Linked DNA regions of Homo sapiens. The gene in region 1 interacts genetically with each later gene. Each region holds a gene or a part of one and is shown in the gene's direction. Other genes may lie near its edges. The genes, in order: NSMCE1, PTTG1, KIF14 and FASN.

Region 1 (7,211 bases):
GAGGATGTTATAGAAGTGACCTCTGAGTCAAAAGAACTGAGCACAGTCCTGGCTCTTGATGCACATTAAATTGTTTTCCCGGAATACCATGCCAGTGTACAGTTCTGCCTGTGATCTGAGTGGTTTTACTGTGCCTCTGCCAGACTTGGTATTACCATTTAAAAGTTATTTTTGCCATTTTAATAGATGAGCATGATACCTGCTCTTTCTTCCAGCTGGAACTGATTATTGACTCAGAAACCGGCTTTGCGTCTTCCACAAACATATTGAACCTGGTTGATCAACTTAAAGGCAAGAAGATGAGGAAGAAGGAAGCGGAGCAGGTGCTGCAGAAGTTTGTTCAAAACAAGTGGCTGATTGAGGTACTGTCTCATGGTTTTTCCAGCCTGGTTCACTTTTTCAAGTGAATAACAGTTTTTTCTCCAAAATCGTACTTGTAGCCAACTGATGTCTGAGGAGCCCGGCCTTCTCGGATCCCTTATCTGCTTTCATGCATTCCAGCAGTGACCCCGTGGGGAGGACTTGGGCCTCACTCCTCCTGCCTCCCACTCCCCGTTCACCCAGATGATGTGTTCAGGATGCCACAGCCAGAATGGCAGAGCCAGGAGCCGCGCCCAGGGACTTGGGCCCCAGGATCAAGGCTCTAGCCCACAGACTGCAAGGCAGGGCAGTTCCGTGGCTGAGAGTGTGGCTCTAACATCTAACCCGGGTCTGAACCCTGAGCCAGGTGACCTCATGTTCCTTGTAAGAGGGGAGTCGTTGTTTCCCCTTCGGGGCTGGGTGTGTCAGGAGCGGGAATGGGACCTCACAGTAATGTGCTCGGTGCTAGGCTGGCTGGCTCGCGGGGGAGGCGGCAGAGGAATTGGTGACATTACCACTGTTGTTTTTGTCAGCAGTGAGTTCCTCAGGGCCAGTGCTTAGAAGAGGCATAGACCTGCTTCAGGAAAGGAGCTGTGACATCTGGGACAGGCCCCACTGCAGCTCCAGTTTCTAGATGTTGCCCCCACCCCCACGTCTAGTCCTGCTGAATGGAGCAGAACAAATGTTTCAGTTCTTTTTCCACAAAAGGCACCCCTGTTTTCAACAGCTCAGTGTTTGCCGAGTTGACCACAGCTGTGCCTCCCAGGTGCTTGTGCCCATGTGTGTTGAGGACGCACTCACGCCGGGTCCCCGCTTCCTCACTTGGTGGTCGGACTCGTGGCCAGAGGCTGCTGCTTGTGGCTGCAGCGATTCTCCGCTTCCTTTTCAGGAAGGCTCGCGTCTGGGTTGGGGAAGTCTGTGTTCTGAGTTACTGATTTCTATTTAGGGTGGGCCTGTCCCAGGAACCTGACCCGAATTCAGTTCCTGGGGTACCTGATGGGAAGACAGGGTGGAGAGGTCATGGGGTGAGGGCAGGGCTGGGAGCTCCTGGTGAGTGCAGGATCTGCTGGGCGCGTTCCCGTATGTCATGTCTTGGAGGCTGTCTGCTGCCCTGCAGTGGCTCCATAGCTTAGTTTTTAGCTGACAGCTCAGGGGTCTGGATGACGTCGGACACCCTGAGAGTGGCAGGGCCGAGTTCAGGCCCCGGTTTGGGGACTGCAGCTCCCATCAATGGCTTTGTCACAGTTGTTCTTGCCCTCCAGGCTGTATTTGGCACTAGGGAATGTTCTAGGGCTACTCAGGTTATAACTGACCATTCTCGCTTGTGGTGCAGCCCCTCTTCAGGCCAATTTTTTTTTTTTTTTTAAGATGGAGTTTTGCTCTTGTTGCCCAGGCTGGAGTGCAATGGTGCAATCTTGGCTCACCGCAACCTCAACCTCCCGGATTCAAGCGATTCTCCTGCCTCAGCCTCCCAAGTAGCTGGAATCACAAGCATGCGCCATCACACCCGGCTAATTTTTCTATTTTTAGTAGAGACGGGGTTCCTCCATGTTGACCAGGCTGGTCTCGAACTCCTGACCTCAGGTGATCCGCCTGCCTCAGCCTCCCAAAGTGCTGGGATGACAGGCGTGAGCCAGCGTGCCCGGCCACAGGCCAAGTTTTTTAAGGGTAGGGGTTATGACCTCTTCATGGCTGGTCCCCATTGCAGAATGTAGTGCCTGGCACCTCAACTGCTCAATAAATGCTTGCTGAATGGATGACTGGACAGGTGGATGAGGTTGCAGAGGAACAGCATTTAAAACTTACAAAAAATGTTACAGGAAATATCTGCTCATTACAGGAGGATTAGAACATGTTGAGATGCATAAAGAAACCCACTGAAGTCACCTGTTATCCCAGACCCTAGAGCCGAGTGCCCCAACATCCCAGTACACAACACTTTGCACCCTGCTTTGCACCCAAGAGCACCATGCCTAGCACATGCTGCCACCATTGTGCATGGCTTGCAGGGCGTGCCCCCAGCTTTATGGTTTGACTTGCCCTTTGTCTGCCCTTGGTGTCTGGAGAGGGCGGTGGTGGATAGGAGAGGCCCCGCCCTGGAGTCTGTGGCGGTGAGCTGTGGCTGCAGGCGCTTGTACTCTGTGCCTTTCTCAGTTCGGTGGCAGTGCTGGCACCACCTTCTGCAGGGCGCCTCTGAGCTCGAGGGAGGGTGGACAGAGGATCCGGGAGCTGCCACCTGCAGGAGCGCTGCAGAAGTAGCAGGGGGCCCTCAGCACTGGCGCTGGGCAGTAGCCCTAGAGAGGCTTCTTGTTGACTGCCTGGCCTGCTGGGGCCCTCAGGAGGACGAAGGAACGAAGCTAATGTGGCAGGGGCTGTGTGGTGAGACTCCTCCAGGTTCCTCCGCTGCCTGTGGTGAGCAGCTTCTCGTTGCGGAGACTGTTTCCTCATCTGCAGGATGGGGACATTGCCAGCTCCAGGTGTTTTCTGTGAGGGTCCAGTGCTCTCTGACCTACATGGCCTGGTAAGGGTTGCCTTGAGGTCTGCGGCACTCTGGAGGAATCACTGAGAACCGGGGCGGGTGCTCACTTACCCAGGACAGGTCTTCCTAGGGCAGCACCTCGATCAGAGAGACCACATGTCAGTGTCTGATCCTTGGCCTCTCAGACACAGGGCTTCCCACAGAAATAGCCAGGGGCCCACTGACAAGGCCCTTCCAGGTGGGTATATCACCCCAAGGACACGTCACTCCTGGACAGCCAGTCCTGTGTGAGACTGGCCCGGCATGGAGGTGCTGAGGCAGCTGTCCGTCCAGGAGAAGGCCCAGGGGTGGTAGGTGGTTGGGGTCAGCGGGGAGGCCTCTGAGAGCAAGCGCGGCTCATGGGAGCTGGGCGTCTGCTGATCGGCGCACCTCCATACACCCCAGGACTGCTCCCTACACGAGGTCCTGACTTCCAAGTGTTGTGGCGAGGCGCCTGGGAGATCACCTGGGCTGTCGTCGTCTTTGAGGGCTAGGGCATCCCTCCTGCCCCTCCCCTGATGGGCCCTCAGAGGACTGAGTGGGTCATGAATGGTGAGCCTTGGGTGCAGTTTCAGGCACATAGCAGGTGTTCAGTAAATGCAGCTTGGCTGGGTGCAGTGGCTCAAACCTGTAATTCCAGCATTTTGGGAGGCCAAGGCGGGTAGATCACTTGAAGTCAGGAGTTTGAGACCAGCCTGGCCGATATGGTGAAACCCTGTCTCTACTAAAAATATAAAAAAGTTAGCTGGGTGTGGTGGCGGGCATCTGTAATCCCAGGTACTCGGGAAGCTGAGGCAGAAGAATCGCTTGAACCCTGGAAGCAGAGGTTGCAGTGAGCTGAGATCGTGCCATTGCATGATCTAGCCTGGGCAACAAGAGCGAAACTCTGTCTCAAATAAATAAATAAAAAATAAATGCAGCTCCTGCCTCAGTCTGAGCTTGAACTTGCTTAGTGTCAGGCATTCCTTTGGGATCAGTGCAAGGTCTACTTCATCTTCCCGTGGGTGTTTATCACAGGCCTGCCAAGTGCTGGGCCCCACAGCAGGTGCTGCGGACACAGGAGTGAGCACAGCCAGAGCTGGTGGCCGCTCCCATGGGGCCATGGTCTGGAGGGGGAGCCCGAGATCAGTGAGACGGTCATCTCACTGCAGTCCTGGTACAGATGGAAAGGAAACATGGCTTTATGACAGCTGTCCCAGAGGAACCGGCCCTCAGCTGCTGAGGAAGTGACACTTGAGCTGAAGGCTGTGTGGGAGTTGCCTGGAGCCTGGGGTGGGAGGATCATCAGCCCGGCAGTGGCCCTGTGGCCAGCAGGTGCACTCAAGAAGCTAAGGCCAGGGCCATCTGAGCACAAAGATTGCGAGGCGAGCAGACGGAGGGCAGCCCGGGAGATACGCGTATTAGGGGCTTGGCTCTTGGACCTAAGGGTGGTGGGAAGCCCTGGGGTGGGGGTGAGTTGGGAGTGACAGGGCCAGGCTTGTTCGGTAGCGAGTGCGTTGCTGGAGGAGAGTGGGCTCAGAGAGCAGCAGGAGCAGGGGAGGGTGGAAGAGGGTGGAGGCCGGGGAGGTGGGTTGCCATGATGGATCTGTAGGGGAGGGTGGAAGAGGGCGGTGGCCGGGGATGTGGGGTACCATGATGCATCTGGAGGGGAGGGCGGAAGAGGGCGGTGGTTGGGGGTGTGGGGTGCCATGATGGATCTGGAGGGGAGGGTGGAAGAGGGTGAGGGCTGGAGAGGTGGAGTACCATGATGGATCTGGAGGGGAGGGTGGAAGAGGGTGGTGGCTGGGGATGTGGGGTGCTGTGATGGATCTGGAGGGGAGGGTGGAAGAGGGTGGGGGCTGGAGAGGTGGGGTACCATGATGGATCTGGAGGGGAGGGTGGAAGAGGGTGGTGGCTGGGGATGTGGGGTGCTGTGATGGATCTGGAGGGGAGGGTGGAAGAGGGTGGGGGCCAAGGAGGTGGGGTGCCGTGATGGATCTGGAGGGGAGGCTGGAAGAGGGCGGTGGCCAGGGAGGTGGGGTGCCATGATGGATTTGGGAGCTTTGGGGGAAGGTAACAGCCATAGGACTGAGGACCGAGGACAGCCTGGGGGCTGGTCACATCCTCCCATTGCCCACAGCACTTGGATGACACAAAGCCCCTGTGCACCAGCAACAGCTGCGGTGCAGGGCACAAGCACCTGGTGCCCCGGCCTCCCTCCACTGTTCCCGCAGCGGCTGTCCATGCCCCAACCCCACGCTTCTGCCCTGCCTTCCTTCCTGTGCTCACCCAGCTCCTCTACTGGTGTTCCAGAGCGAACGCACTGTGAGCCCAGATTACGCAAGCACACCCCTCCACATTGCACTGTGGGGATGAAGGTGGGAATGGGGTGGGGGGCTCTACCTGTCAGAAACGGGAGTGGGCTGGGTGCGGTGACTCACGCCTGCAATCCCAGCACTTTGGAAGGCCGAGGTGGGCGGATCACCTGAGGTCGGGAGTTCAAGACCAGCCTGGCTAACATGGTGAAACCCTGTCTCTACTAAAAATACAAAATTAGCCAGGCGTGGTGGCGCATGCCTGTAATCCCAGCTACTCAGGAGGCTGAGGCAGGAGAATTGCTTGAACCCGGGATGCGGAAGTTGCATTGAGCCAAGATTGTGCCATTGCATTCCACCCTGGGCAACAAGAGCAAAACTCCATCTCAAAAAAAAAAAAAAAAAAAGAAAAGAAAAGAAACGGGAGTGACAGCTCTTGCTTGTAAAAATTAAAAATTAGAAAATAACAGAAAAGGCAGTTGAGCACTCGGGTGACTTGCAGGCGTCAGTGACGTCATCTCCTGGTGTGGTTCATATCCGATGCATGAGCTGACTGTGGAGAAACTGGAATCAGCCTGCATGGGTCCATGTCCTGGGTCCCGTGTCATTTGCCTGCCTTGGGTCTCCCTCAGTGCTGCCTTTCTCCTGTGACCTGGCAGTAGGGTCGGCCTGGGGAGCTGCATTGTTCTTGTGCTTCCGGGCTCTCCCAGGGATTTCAGGATGCATGATGGGTGGACCGCACCCTGGCATGGGAACCAGGAGGCCTGGCTTCCACTGGAGGCTCCACTGCCCACAGTGTGATGGGGCCTGTCTGCCCTCTCCAGACTCCTTCCAGCTCCATCTGTAAAGTGATGTGGCTGGAAGTGATCTCTGAGGGTCCCTACTGCAGTTGGAGGCAGAAGTGCTGGGAGGCAGAAGTGCTGGGAGGCACCAGGGATGCTGCTTTTTGGGAGTGGGATGGGTGGCGGATGGCAGCAGTGGGTGTTTGGGTTTGCACCCTGGGGAGACTGACCCCCTTGTGGGCCTCAGCGTCCTCATCTGCAGGAGGGCTGTGACTGCCTCCCTCGAGGCTGCCGTGCAGACAGAGAAGTCACGTCTGAAGGCACAGCAGATGCTGAGAAAAGGCGGGTGTCAGGGAGCCACGCCTCCATGTCTTTAGGGTCTTTGCCTCAGTTTCCCTTGCCGAGGCTCTGCCAGGGGGATGTGGCTGATGCCCGTTGGCTGGGGTTGGTGAAAAGCTGCGTAGACCCTTGTGTCTTCCTGAGCACTGGGCTGTGGGATCACAGAGGGAAGAGAGGTGGTGAATGGGGAGAGGGCCTGGCTGAGGGTGGCCACCTCCTGTGTGTCCCTGCAGAAGGAAGGGGAGTTCACCCTGCACGGCCGGGCCATCCTGGAGATGGAGCAATACATCCGGGAGACGTACCCCGACGCGGTGAAGATCTGCAATATCTGTCACAGCCTCCTCATCCAGGTACCCGCAGGGCAGGGCACGGGAGCTCATCACTGGGCCCTCGGCTCCCGGGGCTCTGTACAGGTACTTCCCGGAATCCTGGCTCTGGGCCCAGCCCTCCTGCACTGCTGGCGCATCCTCCCACAAGAGCTGGCGGAGGCCATCTCCCAGGACGTGTCAGGACGCCTCCCTGCTGTGCCCCGCAGGGACGCACTGCCGCCCTCCTCCCTGGTTCTGCTGTTGGGGTCCAAGGGCCCTCGCTTACTTTATTTTTCTCAGGAAGGCTGAGTGTTCTGTGCAACCTGCATCATCTTGGTAGTTTTGTAGTGAGTGTCTCTTGTCGATTGCTGCTTTCTGGAGTGGTCTTAACACTGGTTTGCAGGGCTTTGCAACCGCTGAACCAGCGTGGACATTGATGTGTCTTTCAGTTTCTATCGTTTTGCAGCTGTAGCTGTTTGTAATTGCAATTGCTCTTACGGGCCTCGTACACCTGTATCCTTGGGCACCTGGTGATTATTTCCTTGGGCGGAGTTTCTGGGACAAAGTGCACTTTTTTTTTGAAAGCTTTTGATTCACATTAGCAAATAAG
Region 2 (6,265 bases), on another chromosome or scaffold:
TCTGGAGTCTTCTGTCTATGGTTTCCTTTACAATTCAGTGGTTTTAAGTTAAATAGTCACATATCATTCAATTCCTTTTTGACTTCTGGGTTTTACCAGGCTTGTAAAAGAGCAGACTAATTCTTGAGTACTTAGGCTTTAGAGAACTTTCACACCTACGGACAAAGATAAGGAAAACCATGATTTTCTAATCTTTTGAGAAAACAGCTCCTTGAAGAAAATTCAGTGTTAAATCCTACTTTTGTTACTGTACAGAAAAATCACTTTTTAAAAATAATTGCTAAGAAGTAAGGTACTTGGATTTTAAGAATGAATGTTACCTAACACAATGGTTCTCCATTTTTTTTTGTTTTGTTTTAAAGACCCTTTTACACTCTTAGAAATTATTGAAGACCACTTTTGCTTGTGTGATCTGCTCTTTTCTGTATTAGAAATTAAGACTGAGAAACTTAAGATATTTATTCACTAAGTAATCACATTACATTAATGTAAATTTTTTTTTAACATAAAATATTTTTTGTTCTGGAAAAGTTTGGAGAAGAATGGCATGGTTTATATTTTTGAAAATTTGCTTTATTTGGCTTAATACAAGACAACTGGATTCTTATCAAATTCTATATTCACTCTTACATCTGTTAAAATATACGAAGAAAACCTGGCTTCACACAGATACGTTTTTAATAGTCTTTTCAGATAAGTGTGGATAGGTTTTTTTGCCACTACACTAAAACCCACAAGTGGCTGTTTCTGAATATAAAATTGCAATGTGGAATCTGAAACCGTATCAATGAGCATTTTGTATCTTGACAGTAAAATCCATTGGTCTATTTTGCACTTGGAATGTATCTTATATTCTTGCATCTATCTTGCATTGACCATTCAGAAATACTGGTTCACTGAGATATGTAGATACCCACATGTTGAGATGCTTTATTATACAATATCAAAAGCACATTAATACCACAACTGATCTCATCAGAAAAGTCTAAGCACCTGTCAAGCTAATGACTGCAGATAAGTTTTCCAAAATTCCTTTTTTTGGCCAGATGCAGTGGCTCACGCCTGTAATCCCAGCACTTTGGGAGGCAAGGCGGGCGGATCACCTGAGGTCACGAGTTCAAGACCAGCCTGGCCAACATGGTGAAACCCCGTCTGTACTAAAAATACAAAAATTATCCGGGTGTGGTGGGCGCACCTGTAATCCCAGCTGCTTGGGAGACTGAGGCAGGAGAATCGCTTGAACCCAGGAGGCAGAGGTTGCAGTGAACGGAGATTGTGCCACTGCACTGCAGCCTAGGTGAAAGAGTGAGACTCTGTCTCAAAAAAAAAATATTCATTTTTTAATTTTTGACAAAATTTTAACGTTTTATATTCTGCCATTGGCAACAAAGGCTGTCAGTTTTCCTTGAGGTGATAGACTTCTTTCATTCCTTTAAGAAAAAGTGTGACAAGCACCCAGGTCTGAGTGACCATGGGATTTCTTGCAGTTGTTAATTCAAGTAAAAACAGTATTCCAGGAAAATGTTCTCTAGTTTTAGCTTGCAACTCATATAGTTGCACAAATCCTTTTAATCGTATTTTGGTGTACAGTGGAAGTGCTTTATGGCATACTTCTCATTTTATCACACAGAACATTAAAAAGACATCTCAAGGATGGAGAGCTAATAAAATTAATACTTTCTACTGCATATGGTGAAGTGACAGTAAGTGAAACTGGCATTTTTAAACTACAAGCGAAGAAGGATGCAGAACAGAGAGACTGCTAATATGGTTTACTGTCACTGCCTTGATTTGTGTTGAGGCACCAGCAGCTTTCTCCACCGCTGCCTTGGTACCATCATTACAAATGTCAACCCAGTGGAAAAAGGTGTGAATATTGTCTTGAAAATAGTTTTGACCTCATGGACCCCCTCAAAGGGTCTCAGACCACAAGGGATCTACAGCCCACACTAAGAACTGCTGCCCTGACAAAAACGCTTTCTCTCTGTAACAGACTTTGAGAGTTTTGACCTGCCTGAAGAGCACCAGATTGCGCACCTCCCCTTGAGTGGAGTGCCTCTCATGATCCTTGACGAGGAGAGAGAGCTTGAAAAGCTGTTTCAGCTGGGCCCCCCTTCACCTGTGAAGATGCCCTCTCCACCATGGGAATCCAGTAAGTGAGCAAGTGCCCTTCTGGAAGGGCTGCAAACAATTTGTTTCATAACACTTCCATTACCATGGGAAGAGTTGTGCGGGAGGTGAGCCTGTGAGTAATTTCTGTCCTTCAAATGACAAGGATTAGTTTTCAGAAAAATAAACTATTCTCGATTAATATTGCTTTTCAGTCCCAAATGCCCCAGTAAAATTGTTATTCTGGAAACTGGATAGTCTTACTACAGCCAAAAGATTAATTCTCACTTACATCTTCTTAGGCTATAAGTTGAAGCATATATAATAAACTTGCTTGGAATGATGATTCCATGTTATATCCAAAGCTAATATAAGATCAAAACACCTGTGCTGTAGCATAGACTGACAATAACTTCTTACTGCAGAAGGTCTGAGGTCTTCGTTTGAACTGGTAGTCAAAGCCAACATTATGTTTTCTGTTTGTTCTGATGTGGGATAATTTGTCCTAATAAGTTACATTAGTGAGACTGTTAACTCTTACTTTGGTCTCTAAGAACAATAGAGATTCAGATACTTCTAAAACTTACTTCCTAATGAAAGTCAATTCTGGGGCCACAGACACATTCCAAAAAATGTGTCAGGAGGGGATGCAGGTGATTGATTTGACAAAGGGAAAAACATGAATTTTTGATTGACAGCTAATGTCTATGTTGATATGGACAATGACTCAAGGATTTGCAGAAATTTTAATAAGAGATTCCTGTTTTCTAGATCTGTTGCAGTCTCCTTCAAGCATTCTGTCGACCCTGGATGTTGAATTGCCACCTGTTTGCTGTGACATAGATATTTAAATTTCTTAGTGCTTCAGAGTTTGTGTGTATTTGTATTAATAAAGCATTCTTTAACAGATTCTTCCTAGTATTGTGGTTGCTTTTCCATGGAGGTTACTTAAAATAACATGAAAGCTAGCTGAGGTGTTTAACAAAGAGTCTATAATGTGACAATAGAGATTTGTCTGATGTCTAAAAACTTAAATCTTTTTGGTTTAACAGCTTATTTTAGAAGCTGCCACTGTTTTTTCCTGAAAAGTATACCCCTCAATGTGTACTTTATTGACTTTTTGTGGCCATTAACTAGTGACAGTTATTAGATCTCTTAATTAGAAGAGCTACTTCCAACTCATTAAGTATCTATTGCTGGGCATTCTTTATTGCCGGTTCTACTTAGTTTCTAATGACTTTAATACTCAGTATTGAAAGGCTCTAAATCTGAGAATTCAGCCTCCTTGGGATCTTCAATTAGATTCCTTAAAGATCACTGGAGATAATTTACTGATAGTAAGGTCTACACTCCACCTATAGGAAACTGTATTTAGTTGTTTACCTTGTGTTGGACATGAGTATTTGAGAAGCATTATTATGTTTAATGTTTGACACTTTCCCAGGTAAGACAATGAAGCGCAGAAGTTCATTGATTTGTCAAAGATGTGAAGAGCTAGAAAATTATTAGAGCTGGTATTTTGATCTCAGTTCTGAGGTTGGAATCAAAATAGAGATGGCAAATGGTTGCTCATAGGTTTTCTTTTTGAGGGAGGGGGTGGATATTTTAAAAACCTTAATCATTTCCACTATTTAAAATTCCAGTGTTTCACCAATCTGGCTTTGGAGATTCTCTTGAAAAGAGATGTGTCCATAGTAGACCCTGTTTCCAACACTTGCTGGGGCTGGAGGTAGATTGCAGGCTGCTGCCTTTTAGGTGGAGTATAGGCTTTCTATCCCACAGACCCTGCCTTAAATGGCCTCAGTGAGAACTGAAGTGATCCTTTTACCTTTCATGTCTCTTCTGAGACCTAGCCTACTTAACTCACTTTACTCGCTTGGGCCATGTAGTAACCTGAATTTGACCCTTGCTTGATGCTAAGTTATATAAGAAGTCTTTCCCTTGATATATCAGTAGCTTCTATGGTCAAGTTAGAATGTGAACACTTTGCCATTGTCATTGGAGGAAGCTGAAGGATATTAGGCATGAAATACTAAGAACACCTACAACCGCTTATCCTGACTTTAAAACTTTTTACCTTCTAAATACAACTGAATCAGTGTGACTTTCTGGAATTAGTGGAAAGGCAGACTTCTAGGAGAAGATAATACCATAAGACTACTAGGGCACTTGGCTTTAGGGGAGAGTAATAGGTTTAGCATCCTCAGGTAAAATAGGGCTGCTAAGAAAACCAAAGTATAGGTTGGACACAGTGGCTCACACCAGTAATCCCAGCACTTGAGAGTTTGAGGTGGGAGGACTGCTTGATCCCAGGAGCTTGGGTTCAACCTGGGCCATGTAGTGAGACCCTTGTCTCTCAAAAATTAAAAATAATTAGCCGGGTGTGGTGGCGCATGCCTGTAGTCCTAGTTTCAGGAGGTTGAGGCAGGAGGATTGCTTGAGCCCAGGAGTTCAAGCTTACAACTTGAGTGGCTATAGTCATGCCACTGGGTGGTAAAGTGGGTGGTAGAGTAGCCTGGGTGGTAGAGTGAGATGCTGTCTCACAAAAACAACAAAAAAAGCAAAGTGTAGTTCTGAATGGCTTTCATACTCTGCAACACAAACTGAAGCTTTGGAAAATTGTCTTTTGTGGTAGAGGGAACCAAGGGCTGGGAGCAAGGGGACTAGTCAGTCCCTTACCAGTTAATTGCCGTCCTCTGGGTCAGAACTGAGTATAGAGGGATCTGATCTTTTCATCTGCTGTTAATCAGATTGCAATGTGCATAATGTGTGCTGAGACTGAGAACTTTAAGCAGATGCTCCTCCATTAATACAGATAATTTGCATCTTGTGGGGGTTGTTGCTATTTTGTTCTGACACTTTTTGAAATAAGACAGACTTTATTCATACCTTTACAACTCTGTAAACCTTCTGCATTTCTCTACACTACCTCTGAGCCTGCCTCTCAGGATACTGTACCTTCTTATAGTAGGAGCTAACAGTCAGGAATGCCATTATCTTGCTACCATTTCTTCTTTCTTATTACAAGTTGTATTTTTCTACTTTCCATGCCAGCCATGGATTTTACCTTTTTTCATGCTGGGTATTTTTACATTTCTATTAATATTCTTAAACTTTGTTCTAGAGTATGGGTAAGGTACCTAGAAGCAATTTGATTCATTTGAGACTTGCCTTTAATGTTAGGCATCACCAGAGCAGCATTTAGCCCAGGGCTCATTTCCCCCTACTACTGAAGTGTGAGATGCTTAGGACTCTGCTGCCCCCTGAATTATGAGGTTTTCCTGTCTAGCTGGTGGGAGCAGACACTATTCCCAGCCCTGTGTGGGCTTCAGGAATTCTTCCCTCTGATCTTTTCAGCTATATGGATCAGTGCTCTTCTGAATACTACAGGGAGACCCTCTGCAAATTTCCAGGGTTCTCTCTGTGCAGCTCTCTCCTCTCCAGTGCTCTGCTCTGCAAACTTGGCCTGCCTTGGCCTGACTCTGCTCTGTCTCTTCAACTCAGGAAATTCACTGGGCTCTGCCTGCCTCCCTTTCTTCCCCACTCTGAGGCCTGGAAACTCAAAAGTAGCCAGTAAGGATAGTCATCGGCCTCACCTCACTTATTTCACATTCCTCAGGCATCGCTGTTCTCTGTCGCCTGATGTTCACTCTTTGGGCAGCCCTCATTTCATATATTTTGTCTTGTTTTTTAGTTTCAGGCAGGAGAGTAAATCTGGTCCCTGTTACTCCATCTTGATTGGAATTGAAAGTTCCTTCTAGATATTCCTTTCATTTTTTTTCTTTTTTGAGACGGAGTCTTGCTCTGTCGCCCAGGCTGGAGTGCAGTGGTGCAATCTTGGCTCACTGCAAACTCCACCTCCCGGGTTCATGCCATTCTCCTGCCTCAGCCTCCCGAGTAGCTGGGACTACAGGCGCCCACCACCACGCCCAGCTAATTTTTTTTTTTTTTGTATTTTTAGTAGAGACAGGGTTTCACCGTGTTCGCCAGGATGGTCTCGATCTCCTGACCTCGTGATCTGCCGGCCTTGGCCTCCCAAAGTGCTTGGATTACAGGCGTGAGCCACCATGCCCGGCCTTTTTTTTTTTTTTGAGGTAACATTCACATAAGAAAATTCATTTAAAAATGTACAATTCAGTGGCTTTTAGTTCAGAGT
Region 3 (7,824 bases), on another chromosome or scaffold:
CAAATCTGAATTAGGGCTAGGGAAGCTCTCTGTGAGTAAAGCCAATTAAACACTGAAAAAGAATCCCCTGGCAGAAATTGAGCAGGAAAGCACCTTAGGGGGCAGCATTGGATAGAATAAAAGCAAAGGCTTAGAATTTAGATGTGGGCTCCCACTCTAGTTCTCAGTCTTAGGAGTTAGGAACCAAGGTCTGTTTCCTTACCTATAAAATGAGGTATACAATGGGCAGCATAGGACTATAATGGAGAATCAAATAACAAAACATTTGTAAAGTTTTTAGAGTATAGTATTTGCTTGATATGTTACTTACCCCCTTCCAAGGGAAATTTAGAAATTTTGTATCTATAAATATTTAAGTATAACACAAAATTTGTTATAACAAATATTAGAGGGTGTCCATATTTAATATAGAAATCAATGTGCAATTTATTTTGAAAGAAATTATTAATGAATACAGGTGAATTAGACTGATTATTTTCCCATGTCACAGGTAAATAGAAAATACAGACTAAGTATATGATCAATGTGTTTAAAAGGAGAGTAATTGCTATAGCTTGAAATTTTTTATGTAAATAAAATAAATGAGAGAGATTATAAAGTTGAACTCTTAAAAGTGAAATAAACTTATTTGGAAAGAAGTCAATGTGCAATTTATTTTTGAAGAAATTTCACATGTATGATTTAAGTACTCTCAAGCTATTTAATTGCAATCCCAGAAATAGAGCTCCAATCTTTGGGCTTCTAGACTAGAATTTTTTAAAAGTCTGGTCCCATGCAATTCTATGATTTTTGTACTTCTGAATAATAAAGTATAATAAAATATTTTAACATTCTCTATAGGTTACCAAAGAAATGAAAACTAATGCCATGGGATTGATTAGATCTCTTGAAAACATCTTTGCTGAATCGAAAATTGTAAGAGAAGCTTTAAATTGATTTTAATTTTGCTTATTTTTTATCATTTCACTTGGTTCAAATGTAGATATTTTTATTTCAGTGTTTATCCTTAGCCAGAGACAACTCTTTTGTATATGTCTAATTGTAGCATGTAAGATAGCTCTTTGTCTTTTTTATGTGTGTCATAACTTACTAGTTCTAGTAGTGGATAAAGGATTGTATAGAAATTTATTAATATGTCTGTTTCTTATTGCTACTGGTTTAATAACTGTCAGCTTTTGCTTGGATGGGTCATTATAGGCTAAAAAATTGTGTTTAATAATCATTGTGCTCAAAGATTTTAAAATACAGTTGAATTAGATAGATTATTCCCATGTCACAGGTAAAGAGAAAAATTAAGTATATGATCAATGTGTTAAAAAGGAGAGTAATTGCTATGGCTTGAAAATTTTTATTTAAATAAATGAGAACTATTATAAAGTTGAGCTCTTAAAAATGAAATAAATGTATCTTTTAAAGTATTGAATAATAAATGGCACTGTTACTTTATTCCATTCTCATGTAATAGGATGACAGACTTTGAAAATTAATTGAAAATTCTGATTTCTTTTGAAAACAGTAATTACTATTGTATTTTGGTCTTGCTTATAGAAATAGAGTTAAGCACTGGTGAGGAAATTAAACTCTCTTTCTTAAAGAGAAGATTCTGGCAATTAAAATCATATTGACTGAGCCTTACTGCCATTGAGCCTGTTAATGTATTATTTTAAATATTAACTTTATTTATACAGAAAAGTTTCAGAAGGCAAGTACAAGAAGAAAACTTTGAATACCAAGATTTCAAGAGGATGGTTAATCGTGCTCCAGAATTCTTAAAGTTAAAACATTGCTTAGAGAAAGCTATTGAAATTATTATTTCTGCACTGAAAGGTATGATTCTCCAAATGGAGTTTATAATCAGAATTTTATATTTTAAGGAACCTTAGACATCTTTCCTTTTTTTTTTTGAGATGGAGTCTCGCTCTGTCACTCAGGCTGGAGTGCAGTGGCTCGATTTCAGCTCACTGCAACCTCCGACTCCTGGGTTCAAGCGATTCTCCTGCCTCAGCCTCCCAAGTAGCTGGGATTACAGGCATATGCCACCATGCCTGGATAATTTTTGTATTTTTAGTAGAGATGGGGTTTCACCATGTTGGCCAGGCTGGTCTCGAACTCCTGACCTCAAACAATTCACCCACCTTGGCCTCCCAAAGTGCTGGGATTACAGGCATGAGCCACAGTCCCCGGCTGACATCTTTCCTTTTTATTTCTAACCTTTTCATTATTTTAGTCATTAACTGAAGCCTACCCAATGCTACTTCACTGATATTAGTTACCCATATAGGAACTTGTATTTATAATTAAATTCCCACTTAATGTATGTATCAGTACTTCTACCTAAATAATTAGATCCTGAAAAACCAAGTGCTCATCTAGCAAATAAACACTTTAGTTGACTAATCTTAAGTAGTTTGGAATTGTTTTGATAGGGTCACTTTGACTTAAAAGATATCTAGAGTCTATAAAAGTCATAAATACCTGATGAAAACTGAAAAGGCTAATTAACTTTTCCCTCCTCTCTTGCATATAGGATGCCATAGTGATATAAATCTTCTCCAGACTTGTGTTGAAAGTATTCGCAACTTGGCCAGTGATTTTTACAGTGACTTCAGTGTGCCTTCTACTTCTGTTGGCAGCTATGAGAGTAGAGTAACTCACATTGTCCACCAGGAACTAGAATCTCTAGCTAAGTCTCTCCTCTTTTGTTTTGAATCTGAAGAAAGCCCTGATTTGTTGAAACCCTGGGAAACTTATAATCAAAATACCAAAGAAGAACACCAACAATCTAAATCAAGCGGGATTGACGGCAGTAAGAATAAAGGTGTACCAAAGCGTGTCTATGAGCTCCATGGCTCATCCCCAGCAGTGAGCTCAGAGGAATGCACACCCAGTAGGATTCAGTGGGTGTGAATACTGATGTGTAGGCACTTTTATGACCACCCATGAAAGAAAAAGAACACTTGCTCGGTAATTTTCTTTATGCAGGAGAGTTTAAGAGAAATCAGCACAGATATTTCAAAAAAGTCCATGTCTTTTTATCTTTAAAATATCTATTTATCAAAGGCCAGACACAGTGGCTCACGCCTGTAATCCCAGCACTTTGGGAGGCGGGCAGATCACAAGGTCAGGAGTTTGAGACCGGCCTGGCCAACATGGCGAAACCCCGTCTCTACTAAAAATACAAAAATTTGCTGGGCATGGTGGCGCGTGCCTGTAATCCCAGCTACTAGGGGGGCTGAGGCAGGAGGATCGCTTGAACCTGAGAGGCAGAGGTTGCAGTGAGCCAAGATCATGCCACTTTACTCCAGTCTGAGCAACAGAACGAGACTTAGTCAAAATAAATAAATAAATAAATAAATAAATAAATAAATAAATAAATAAAATATATTTTTATCTTTAAAGTGTTTAACATTGGTATACTGTCTGTAGTTGGTTCATTAGTCGTTTATAAAGGGTTATTTTCTCATGAGTGGAAACCTGAACAATCAGTTACCTTTGTGCCTATGCCTTCTCTCTCCTCAGACAGCTGGGATGTTTATGGTGAAATGGCCTGTACAAGTTTAACTAAGACAACTTAACTTGCATTGTTAATCAAAAATTCTTTTCTCAAAGGGTTAACTGGTTGCCATTTTGAATAGTATGTTCAAGGGTGTAGCTTCCTGTTTCTTTCCAAATTATAAGTAGCTACCTAAATATAGTATAATTATATATTAATAATATGGCTTGCTGGCACAGTAGTTTACCCTGTTATCTGTGTTTCATAATGGGGGCTGTATGAATATTATTTAAAACTAATAAAATGTTGCCAGAATTATACTAAACTGTTGGATGAGATTAGGAGATCAGAGGCTGGACCTTCTCTTGATAATGCTTGTTTTGTTAAAGGTATAATGAAATAATTTGTATATGATTTGATGAAGATTAAAGACCCTTATTTTCCACAGCTTTAAAAAAAAACCTTTATTTATGATCAAGTAATAAAGATAATATTCTACTTGTGGGATCTTACATTACGGAAATAGTTTGACGTTTTTGACCTCAAGAGTATGTATAATTTGAAGAGATACTTTGTAACTATGCTTGGGTGATATTGAGCAGTTCCTAAAGAATAATTCATTTAAAAAAAAAGAAGAAAAAAAAAGAAGAATTCATTTAAATAACCTGATCCTTTCATTTGCCCTTTTCGAATTTACAGATACTACTTGTACATTTGGCATAACTAGTTGAAATTGGCCATTCGTACCATGAATAAATCTGATAGTTTCCTTGTTAGGAAGAGATTGTAAGTAAATACAGTCATTGCAGTCAGAACAGTATTAGTGAACCTTGTGTGGTGTTTTCAAGCTCTTTAAAATGGTACAATGTAGCACATTTGCTTTCATTTCTTTTTTTATTTTTGGCATTTGACCTTGTATTCTTTCTGAAGCTCTATATGTGTTTTTATTAGTCAATAATCTGGCAAGTAGCACTTTGCCTGTGCAGTTTGCTGGAGTGTAGATGTACATATGAGGATTTCCCGGGAGGTGCACTTCTTTGAAGAACTTCCTAAAGTACCTGTATAGTAGTTTTCATCTTAATATTCAGTATTTAATCTTCAGTTTGTGCTTTGTAAACTCATGACTTAATTGGTCAGAAACTTTTTAGTGTCTTTATAAAATTTTGTATACATATTTATACTAAACACATTGTGATACTGTATTTGAATGAATGGTGAAAAAATATTTGCTATTGGAATTATGTGCACTGACAAGAAATGTTATAAAGAGAATGCCTTTAATAAATCTTTTCAGCATTAGAATTGCTTCGTGGTCTATGCTTTTTTATTTTACTGATTTTCTTTGTTTATTTTACTCTTCATTCAGAATAGCTCTGCCTTGATAATAGCTAGGCTAGTGTTGCAAATCAAGTTAATAATTAGGAAACACTAAACAAATATTAATATTGCCATAACAACTATTTTTTTTTAACATTGTTCTGCCTCTCTTTAGTTGATTATGCCTGGAATAGATTTATCACCATGTGGTATGTGTAAAGAGCATGAGCTTTGGAGTTTGACATATTTTTCACACGTTTGGAGTGTGAATCCCAGCTGGACTGCTTAGTAACTACATGACCTTAGACATGTTACTGTCTTCACTCCCATTCCTTCATCTGCAGAAAGAAAAGTAATACCCACCTCATGGACTATCTATCTATGAGCACTTAGTGAGAAAAATGTGGGAATAACTGCTGGCAAGTAGTAGACTGTTAGTGAATTTATTTTCTGTCCTTTTCATTACCAGCTACAAAACCCTTGTTATGTATATAAGATCACACTTGGTGCAGGCATATGCCATTTATAACATTCTGCCAATGTGCCAAATTGTATTGCAGTCCTTTATGGCATACCTGAAAATATATCTGCCGTCATTTTGTTCCATGATAATAAATGGACAATAAAGATAACTAAACATTATCTTACTGCTCTTAAGGTATAATGTGCTATGTGTCCTCCATGGAGTCAGTCCATCTGAAAGTTTTAGCAAAAGGCTGTTTTGTCTAGTTAGCTAACTAGCATACTTGAGTTTACAGAGCCTAACTATGTGCCAATAAGCATTTCAAGGTTTTCCCTAAATATGGAAAGTAAGAATTAATCACAGGTGAGGGGAAAAGGTATCAGTAGTTTGGTTCAGTTAAAAAAAAGCTTATGTGCCCAGCTTCCTGTGCATGATTCATCAGGTAAGTTTGTGCTCTGGATTTTGCAAGTTACAGTCATTGCATGATATAATCAAGACTGAGCTTTTCCATCTTTCTTCCTTTAGCCAATATTAGTTTATGGGATTTTTAGATGTGGAGCATGGCCATTTAGTTTGTTTTAGTATCTGATAGCTAGGTTCATTCATTCATTCTAATAATTATTTACTTAATGCTAGGTATGCTGTTGGTGTTAAGCCATAGCAACCTGAAAAAGATTAGATTGCCTCATGGACTTTTGAAAGGCCCAACTTGTTGGATCCCAGTTGTTCATAACATTATATTTTCTCGATGCCAAAGACCTCTAAACACACTAAACTCAAGTCGGGTGCAGTGGCTTATGCCTGTAATCCCAACACTTTGGGAGGCTGAGGAGGGTGAATCACTTGAGGCCAGGAATTTGAGACCAGCCCGGCCAACGTGGTGAAACCCCAACACTATTAAAAACACAAAAGTTAGCCGGCATGGTGGCGCATGGCACGCCTGTAATCCTAGCTACACAGGAGGCTGAGGCAGGAGAATGGCTTGAACCCAGGAGGTAGAGGTTGCAGTGAGCCTAGATCACGCCACTGTACTCCAGCCTGGGTGATAGAGCGAGACTCTGTCTAAAAAAAACAATAATAAACAGGCATGGCAGTGCATGCCTATAATCCCAGCTATTCGGGAGGCTGAGGCATGAGAATTGCTTGAACCTGGGAGGCAGAGGTTGCAGTGAGCCAAGATTGCGCCACTGCACTCCAGCCTGGGAGACCAAGGGAGACTGTCAAACAAACAAAAAACCAAACAAAAAACACACACTACACTCGAACATACAGGAGAACCACCAGAGAATCGCTGACTTATTCAAGACAGAATTCAGGGGTAAACTTTTGATTAAGCAAATGGCAACTGGAAACTGCATATTTCCTGTTGCTGAATGGTCCTAAACTCAGAGAATCATAGGTTTTTTAAAGAATTTAGCCGAGCACGGTGGCTCACGCCTGTAATCCCAGCGCTTTAGGAGGCCGGGGGTGGGTGGATCACCTGAGGTCAGAAATTCGAGACAAGCCTGACCAACAAGGTGAAACCCCGTCTCTACTAAAAATACAAAAATTAACCAAGCGTGGTGGCACGCGCCTGTAATCCCAGCTACTCAGGAGGCGTAGGCAAGAGAATCGCTTGAACCCGGGAGGCGGAGGTTGCAGTGAGCTGAGATGGCCACATTGCACTCCAGCCTGGGCGACAAGAGTGAAACTCCATCTCAAAAAAAAAAAAAAAAAAAGAATTTAAGAGCGATTTTGTGGTAAGTCACAGGCTTTCGTTTCTCTGGCTAATATTCAGTGAAAACCTCTGAATTTGTCTAAAGAGCGAGCATCTGCCCATTAGGGGGCCTCATTTTCACGAAGAGCAGATTGTGCTGTCCACTAAGAAGATGGAGAATCTCTGAAATTTGGAAAATGGATATCGCTTTCTATGGCCCTACATCCCCCTCTTTTTAAAATGGTGGCTCACGTCTATAACCCCAGCACTTTGGGAGGCTGAGATGGATGGATCACGAGGCTAAGAGATCTAGACCATCCTGGCCAACATGGTGAAACCCTGACTCTACCAAAAAACACAAAAATTAGCTTCGCCTGTAGTCACAGCTACTCGGGAGGCTGAGGCAGGAGAATCACTTGAACCCGGTAGGCAGAGGTTGCAGTGAGCCGAGATTGCACCATGGCACTCCAGCCTGGCGACAGAGCAAGACTCTGTCTCAAAAAAAAAAAAAAATATATATATATATATATATGTGTGTGTGTGTGTGTGTGTGTGTGTGTGTGTGTGTGTTTACGGGCCAAGCACGGTGGCTCACACCTATAATCCCAGCACTTCTGGAGGCCAAGATGGGAGGATCACTTGAGCCCAGGCATTCGAGACCAGCCTGGCCCACATAATGAGACCTGGTCTTTATTTAAAAAACAAACAAAAAAAGAGCAGGCATGATGGCTCATGCCTGTAATCCCAGCACTTTGGGAGGCCGAGGTAGGCAGATCAACTGAGGTCGGGAGTTCAAGACCAGCCTGATCAATATGGTGAAACCCCATCTCTACTAAAAATACAAAATTAGCCGGG
Region 4 (7,572 bases), on another chromosome or scaffold:
GGAGGTGTGCTCAGGGGTCTCGTGTGCTCACAGCCCCACCTGAGCCGCAGCACCCTTCCTTGCAGGGCCCAGCATCGCACTGGACACAGCCTGCTCCTCCAGCCTGATGGCCCTGCAGAACGCCTACCAGGCCATCCACAGCGGGCAGTGCCCTGCCGCCATCGTGGGGGGCATCAATGTCCTGCTGAAGCCCAACACCTCCGTGCAGTTCTTGAGGCTGGGGATGCTCAGCCCCGAGGGCACCTGCAAGGCCTTCGACACAGCGGGTGAGTGTGCGGCTGCGCGGCCAGGGCAGGCGGGACAGTGGCACAGGACGGCCCCCCGCACAGTCCCCACGCTGAGCAGGATCCTGCCAGCTCCGGGGATCCCCCACCCAAGCACCCACCCCACACCCCAGAGCTCCTCCTGGTGGGGTGGGGGCCGGCGTGGGGCTGAGCCCCGGGCCTGAGGTGCTGCTCTACCCAGGGAATGGGTACTGCCGCTCGGAGGGTGTGGTGGCCGTCCTGCTGACCAAGAAGTCCCTGGCCCGGCGGGTGTACGCCACCATCCTGAACGCCGGCACCAATACAGATGGCTTCAAGGAGCAAGGTGGGCTCTGCCGGGGTTCCGGGGTGCTGGGGGGCAGGTGGGAGCCGGGGCTGGGGCTGCAGCACTGAGCCGAGCCCTCCGCAGGCGTGACCTTCCCCTCAGGGGATATCCAGGAGCAGCTCATCCGCTCGTTGTACCAGTCGGCCGGAGTGGCCCCTGAGTCATTTGAATACATCGAAGCCCACGGCACAGGCACCAAGGTGATGCCCCCCCCCCCCGCCCCACTCACCACCCCATGAGCCTAACCTACGCCCATGCCTGGAGAGGTGACCTGGCCAGAGCCCCTCACCCCCCATGTTTCCCACAGGTGGGCGACCCCCAGGAGCTGAATGGCATCACCCGAGCCCTGTGCGCCACCCGCCAGGAGCCGCTGCTCATCGGCTCCACCAAGTCCAACATGGGGCACCCGGAGCCAGCCTCGGGGCTGGCAGCCCTGGCCAAGGTAGGTGGGGCTGGGCTTGGGGGTCCCTCAGGCTCCTGCTCCCTGGGACTGGGTTGCGCCATGGCTGGGCACTGCTGCTTTCTCTTTGCCAAGTGGAGGCGGGGGCTTCCCCACCAGGAGCCTCTGTCCCCCGGGCTATGCTGCAGGTCTGAGCAGAGGCACTGAGGCTGACAGCAGGGAGAGCTCGTAGCCAGGCTCGCTGGGCCTTCCCTGGAGGCCTGATGCCCTGCAGAGCGTCTGCCGGACACGGAGCCGAGCTGGAGGAGCCGCTTGGGTGGGAAGAGCGAGGCAGGAGCAGGCCTGGGGGGGTCCACGGCACCATCAGGGTCTCCCGTGTCGCCCACCCGTCCCTACAGCTTCCTGACCCACTAGCAGAGGCCTGGGGACCTTTAGAGAGACCAGGCACAGGAGCCCCAACACCCATGATCACTCACGCCCTCTGCCCCCCAACTTCTGCAGCCTCTGAGATGCAACATCTGGGCCAAGGGGGCCTTAGTGTTCAGGCCACAGCCAGGCTTTGGTGGGTCCACATCAGGCTGGGAGGCAGCAAGGCCGGAAGGGGAGGTCTTGGACCAAGCTGAGGGCAGGGCCATGGCGGCTCAGTCCTCGGACCCCTGTGCCATGGCAGAATTAGGTTGGGGACAGGAAGTGCATCGGAGAGGGCCCTGGAACCCTGGCCCCACATGAGAGTCTCGGGGAGGTGCCTGCCCCCAGCTCAGGCAGTGGTAGAGGGAGTGGGGCGGCTGCCCATCCACCACGTACCCCCGCAGGTGCTGCTGTCCCTGGAGCACGGGCTCTGGGCCCCCAACCTGCACTTCCATAGCCCCAACCCTGAGATCCCAGCGCTGTTGGATGGGCGGCTGCAGGTGGTGGACCAGCCCCTGCCCGTCCGTGGCGGCAACGTGGGCATCAACTCCTTTGGCTTCGGGGGCTCCAACGTGCACATCATCCTGAGGCCCAACACGCAGCCGCCCCCCGCACCCGCCCCACATGCCACCCTGCCCCGTCTGCTGCGGGCCAGCGGACGCACCCCTGAGGCCGTGCAGAAGCTGCTGGAGCAGGGCCTCCGGCACAGCCAGGACCTGGCTTTCCTGAGCATGCTGAACGACATCGCGGCTGTCCCCGCCACCGCCATGCCCTTCCGTGGCTACGCTGTGCTGGGTGGTGAGCGCGGTGGCCCAGAGGTGCAGCAGGTGCCCGCTGGCGAGCGCCCGCTCTGGTTCATCTGCTCTGGTGAGCCCACACTCTGCCCCCAAGGTGGTCCCTTCCCTGGGGAAAGGCAGGCGAACTGGAGCTGGTGGTCCCCTGAGGTGCTCTCTGGGACGGGGATGGGCACACAGTGGCACGGGATGGGGCTGAGCCTCGTGACGTGCTCTCTGGGACAGGGATGGGCACACAGTGGCGCGGGATGGGGCTGAGCCTCATGCGCCTGGACCGCTTCCGAGATTCCATCCTACGCTCCGATGAGGCTGTGAAGCCATTCGGCCTGAAGGTGTCACAGCTGCTGCTGAGCACAGACGAGAGCACCTTTGATGACATCGTCCATTCGTTTGTGAGCCTGACTGCCATCCAGGTAGGGCCCAGCCTGCCAGCGTGTGAGCAACGCCAGCCCCAGGGCTCTGGCTTTCCCTGGAGCCCAGGAGCTGCAGTGTTGAGTCCGGGGCCCCTGACAGCCCCTTTGCTAGGCAGAGCCTTGTGCTGGGGGCAGGACGGGAGGGGAGGAGGGGTCTCAGTGGGGCTGTGTGGGGGCCATAGGGGCTTCTTTCCTATCAGGAGACCTGGGAGGGTCGATGGGGCGCGGGGGTGGAGATGGCCTAGTGGGGCCGGGGGCCGCCCCCAACAGCTGCACCTGCTGGAGGTTGCAACCTGAGTGTCCTGTTCCCACCCCAGATAGGCCTCATAGACCTGCTGAGCTGCATGGGGCTGAGGCCAGATGGCATCGTCGGCCACTCCCTGGGGGAGGTGGCCTGTGGCTACGCCGACGGCTGCCTGTCCCAGGAGGAGGCCGTCCTCGCTGCCTACTGGAGGGGACAGTGCATCAAAGAAGCCCATCTCCCGCCGGGCGCCATGGCAGCCGTGGGTAGGTCTCCCGGAGGGGCCCCCAGCACCTCCAAGAAAGGAGGCTGCCTTCTCGCTGTGGGGTCCTCACCTGCAGCCCTGGCCTGGCCCCCGTAGGATAGAGTGGCCCCCGCTGGCCCGGGGACACCCAGCTCGGACACAGCCGTGCGCGAGTCCCCTGCAGCTGCCCCACTGGCCCCACACCTGGCAGCCTTGGGCCTAGGCACGTGTCCATGGGCATCAGGCCTGCGTGGAGCCCCCGTGTGATGAGCACACAGCTGCAGCATAGCAAGAACCCAGGGGCTCTGGTGAAGCCAACACACGGGTCATCAGGGTTCCCTCAGACTGGTGCCCTCTGTTGGCACCCATCTCTGAGCCCCATGGGCCACATGTGGGCAGGACCTGGAAAGAACCTTGGCTGCAGAGGACTGAGGGGGCCACCATCTGGGGACTGGGCTCCCAGGAGCTGCCCCTGGAGTGGCAGCTCTGTAATGACACCTCCACCCACGGGTCAAACACAGCAGGGGGCGAACCTTTCTCATGAAGGCTCCAAGGCTGCCATTACCACACTTGTCATTACTGCCCCCAGCTGCAGGCAGTGTCTGGGTGGGTGGGTGGCTGGGAGCGGCTCGGTGTCCACGCTAAGCCTCTGAGGCTGGCTCTGCCATAGGCTTGTCCTGGGAGGAGTGTAAACAGCGCTGCCCCCCGGGCGTGGTGCCCGCCTGCCACAACTCCAAGGACACAGTCACCATCTCGGGACCTCAGGTGGGTGCTGCGGCCTGGGCGGGCTCCTCTGTCCCCTGCGCCTGCCATTGCAAGTCTGGCAGGGACACGCGGCCACGGTCTACGCCCCACCAAGCTCTGACGGGCCTGGGGCATGGGGCAGGTTTGTCCTCAGGTCCCTTGCCCATTCCCTCTCGGTTCCCTTGGGGTGAGGTGGGTGCGCCCTACCTCTCCGAGCCTGAGGTGGGTGCCCAGCCAGGATGCTTATCCAGGCTCCCACGATGTCCAGGCCCCGGTGTTTGAGTTCGTGGAGCAGCTGAGGAAGGAGGGTGTGTTTGCCAAGGAGGTGCGGACCGGCGGTATGGCCTTCCACTCCTACTTCATGGAGGCCATCGCACCCCCACTGCTGCAGGAGCTCAAGAAGGTGGACTAATACGGCCTGGGGGGTGCGGGGCGGGCCAGGGGACCCACAACCCAGCACTGACCTGGCCCCTCATGCAGGTGATCCGGGAGCCGAAGCCACGTTCAGCCCGCTGGCTCAGCACCTCTATCCCCGAGGCCCAGTGGCACAGCAGCCTGGCACGCACGTCCTCCGCCGAGTACAATGTCAACAACCTGGTGAGCCCTGTGCTGTTCCAGGAGGCCCTGTGGCACGTGCCTGAGCACGCGGTGGTGCTGGAGATCGCGCCCCACGCCCTGCTGCAGGTAGGCCCAGCCTGGGGGCAGCAGGCGCCGGGAGCCTGGGATGGGCGCCTCAGCTGAGCACCAAGAGAGCCCACCTGCCCTGCCGCCCCCAGGCTGTCCTGAAGCGTGGCCTGAAGCCGAGCTGCACCATCATCCCCCTGATGAAGAAGGATCACAGGGACAACCTGGAGTTCTTCCTGGCCGGCATCGGCAGGCTGCACCTCTCAGGGTGGGTCCCTTCCCAGCCCGGGTCTCGTCTCCCGGAGTCGGGGACGGCGTGGGGTGGGTGAGCGGGGCTGCGGGCCCCTCACTGACCCAGGCCGGTGGCAGCAGCCCTGGATGGTCCACCGCAGGCAGTGGGTGGGCTGAACCCAGAGCCCCTGGACCCCGGTGACGGGTGTGCTACCCATGCCTCCCTTCTCCGTAGCATCGACGCCAACCCCAATGCCTTGTTCCCACCTGTGGAGTTCCCAGCTCCCCGAGGAACTCCCCTCATCTCCCCACTCATCAAGTGGGACCACAGCCTGGCCTGGGACGTGCCGGCCGCCGAGGACTTCCCCAACGGTTCAGGTTCCCCCTCAGCCGCCATCTACAACATCGGTGAGCAGGGGCCCGGCGGGTGGGCAGACTCTTCCCTCCCCACAGACGCCCGCTCTGTGCTGAGGCCTGTGCCCTCCCGCAGACACCAGCTCCGAGTCTCCTGACCACTACCTGGTGGACCACACCCTCGACGGTCGCGTCCTCTTCCCCGCCACTGGCTACCTGAGCATAGTGTGGAAGACGCTGGCCCGCGCCCTGGGCCTGGGCGTCGAGCAGCTGCCTGTGGTGTTTGAGGATGTGGTGCTGCACCAGGCCACCATCCTGCCCAAGACTGGTGAGGGGTACCCCAGGACCAAGGCGGGGGTAGCTGGGGGGCGGGTGCTGCCCTCTGATCTCCAACTCTCCCGCTCTGCAGGGACAGTGTCCCTGGAGGTACGGCTCCTGGAGGCCTCCCGTGCCTTCGAGGTGTCAGAGAACGGCAACCTGGTAGTGAGTGGTAAGCAGGGCCGGTGGCACGGGAGCTGCGGAGGCTGTGCCCGCTGGCCATGCCGCCCGTCCTCAGGCCCTTCCGCACCTCCCTTTCCACAGGGAAGGTGTACCAGTGGGATGACCCTGACCCCAGGCTCTTCGACCACCCGGAAAGCCCCACCCCCAACCCCACGGAGCCCCTCTTCCTGGCCCAGGCTGAAGTTTACAAGGAGCTGCGTCTGCGTGGCTACGACTACGGCCCTCATTTCCAGGGCATCCTGGAGGCCAGCCTGGAAGGTGGGTACTGACTACACTGCTGCCCAAGCCACCGGGGAGGGCGGTCGTCATTGTGGGGACCACAGAGGGCACCCACAGCTAGGCATGCAGCTTGGGAGGGAGCAGAGGGGCCCGGTGGGCTCTGGGAGGTGGCCCCAGGGACCTGGGAGTTCCACAGCACCAACCAGGCCCTGTGTGCAGGTGACTCGGGGAGGCTGCTGTGGAAGGATAACTGGGTGAGCTTCATGGACACCATGCTGCAGATGTCCATCCTGGGCTCGGCCAAGCACGGCCTGTACCTGCCCACCCGTGTCACCGCCATCCACATCGACCCTGCCACCCACAGGCAGAAGCTGTACACACTGCAGGACAAGGCCCAAGGTAGCCCCGCCCCAGCCCCAGCCCAGTGCCCCCACCCAAGTATGCCGCACTCACCCAGCCTGTCCCCACAGTGGCTGACGTGGTGGTGAGCAGGTGGCTGAGGGTCACAGTGGCCGGAGGCGTCCACATCTCCGGGCTCCACACTGAGTCGGCCCCGCGGCGGCAGCAGGAGCAGCAGGTGCCCATCCTGGAGAAGTTTTGCTTCACTCCCCACACGGAGGAGGGGTGCCTGTCTGAGCGCGCTGCCCTGCAGGAGGAGCTGCAACTGTGCAAGGGTGAGGTCCCAGCCCTGCTGGCTTCGGACACCTCTGGCGATGAGGAGCGATCGCCTCCCCTCACGTTGACCCCAGACTTGCTTCTCCACGGGGCCCCCTTTGGGGTCAGCAACCCTAGCCCAACCCTCCGGCCGGAGCTCACGATGGCGGCCTCCCTCCCTCCCCCAGCCCCCAGCCTTCCTCGTCCCTGGTCACTGTTCCTCAGTCTTGAAAGGGTACTTGGGGGCAAAGATGACAGATTCAGCCTAAGGTCACACCTTGGCTAGGCACAGAGTAGCCCCTGCAGCTGAATGCGGCCCCTCACTGCGTCCACAGTGGGCAGGAGTCAGCCTCCCAGTGGTGGGCAGCCCCTTCCTCAACCCTCAGCTATTTCTCATCCTGTGGGCAGAGCGGGGTGGTGGCCCCAGAAGGACAGAGTGGGTCTGAGAGCCCATGCCAGGCAGATGCCCTGGGGCTTTGGGAACACCAGGCCTGCCTCCCTCCCTCCCCAGGGCTGGTGCAGGCACTGCAGACCAAGGTGACCCAGCAGGGGCTGAAGATGGTGGTGCCCGGACTGGATGGGGCCCAGATCCCCCGGGACCCCTCACAGCAGGAACTGCCCCGGCTGTTGTCGGCTGCCTGCAGGCTTCAGCTCAACGGGAACCTGCAGCTGGAGCTGGCGCAGGTGCTGGCCCAGGAGAGGCCCAAGCTGCCAGAGGACCCTCTGCTCAGCGGCCTCCTGGACTCCCCGGCACTCAAGGCCTGCCTGGACACTGCCGTGGAGAACATGCCCAGCCTGAAGATGAAGGTGGTGGAGGTGGGTGCCTCCTGGGCAGCCAGGCCTCTGCCCCGGACATGGTAGGACCCACCCTGACATCAGTTGCAGGAGACAGCACAGACACGGGGCGGGCCCTGGGCGGTGGGTGGGGCCGGCCAGTTCCCTGTGTGGTTCTGTGCACGTGTCCTGTGCGGTCCACACAGCCACCGTGGAGGGTCCGCCCGTGGGCTCCAAGAGGTGCAGCCTAGGCAGGACCCCAGGGACAAGACCAGTGGCATCCATGCGTGCCCATGGCTGGCACCGTCATCAGGTTGACGGGGAAGCCTTTCTGCCAGACTGAGGCCTCATGGACATTTTGCCCAGCCCCAGGTCAGGGGCAC

What was found.
Region 2: changes in NSMCE1 (region 1) and PTTG1 together harm fitness more than expected from each alone (negative genetic interaction), as found in Homo sapiens cells (one large-scale study listed by BioGRID).
Region 3: changes in NSMCE1 (region 1) and KIF14 together harm fitness more than expected from each alone (negative genetic interaction), as found in Homo sapiens cells (one large-scale study listed by BioGRID).
Region 4: changes in NSMCE1 (region 1) and FASN together harm fitness more than expected from each alone (negative genetic interaction), as found in Homo sapiens cells (one large-scale study listed by BioGRID).

The regions. Positions count from the first base shown.
Region 1 is NC_000016.10:27,226,152-27,233,362, reverse strand, and holds part of NSMCE1 (non-structural maintenance of chromosomes element 1 homolog), read left to right. Parts: intron 1-215; coding exon 216-362; intron 363-6,526; coding exon 6,527-6,643; intron 6,644-7,211. UniProt on the Homo sapiens protein: RING-type zinc finger-containing E3 ubiquitin ligase that assembles with melanoma antigen protein (MAGE) to catalyze the direct transfer of ubiquitin from E2 ubiquitin-conjugating enzyme to a specific substrate.
Region 2 is NC_000005.10:160,425,722-160,431,986, forward strand, and holds the end of PTTG1 (securin), read left to right. Parts: intron 1-1,993; coding exon 1,994-2,152; intron 2,153-2,880; coding exon 2,881-2,960; 3' UTR 2,961-3,018; downstream 3,019-6,265. UniProt on the Homo sapiens protein: Regulatory protein, which plays a central role in chromosome stability, in the p53/TP53 pathway, and DNA repair. Probably acts by blocking the action of key proteins.
Region 3 is NC_000001.11:200,548,471-200,556,294, reverse strand, and holds the end of KIF14 (kinesin-like protein KIF14), read left to right. Parts: intron 1-840; coding exon 841-915; intron 916-1,688; coding exon 1,689-1,827; intron 1,828-2,527; coding exon 2,528-2,907; 3' UTR 2,908-4,795; downstream 4,796-7,824. UniProt on the Homo sapiens protein: Microtubule motor protein that binds to microtubules with high affinity through each tubulin heterodimer and has an ATPase activity. Plays a role in many processes like cell division, cytokinesis and also in cell proliferation and apoptosis.
Region 4 is NC_000017.11:82,085,913-82,093,484, reverse strand, and holds part of FASN (fatty acid synthase), read left to right. Parts: intron 1-65; coding exon 66-266; intron 267-465; coding exon 466-588; intron 589-672; coding exon 673-788; intron 789-895; coding exon 896-1,030; intron 1,031-1,800; coding exon 1,801-2,263; intron 2,264-2,415; coding exon 2,416-2,603; intron 2,604-2,920; coding exon 2,921-3,110; intron 3,111-3,344; exon of another isoform or gene 3,345-3,525; intron 3,526-3,758; coding exon 3,759-3,853; intron 3,854-4,100; coding exon 4,101-4,235; intron 4,236-4,312; coding exon 4,313-4,516; intron 4,517-4,608; coding exon 4,609-4,724; intron 4,725-4,922; coding exon 4,923-5,095; intron 5,096-5,177; coding exon 5,178-5,369; intron 5,370-5,450; coding exon 5,451-5,531; intron 5,532-5,623; coding exon 5,624-5,800; intron 5,801-5,980; coding exon 5,981-6,160; intron 6,161-6,231; coding exon 6,232-6,435; intron 6,436-6,926; coding exon 6,927-7,231; intron 7,232-7,572. UniProt on the Homo sapiens protein: Fatty acid synthetase is a multifunctional enzyme that catalyzes the de novo biosynthesis of long-chain saturated fatty acids starting from acetyl-CoA and malonyl-CoA in the presence of NADPH.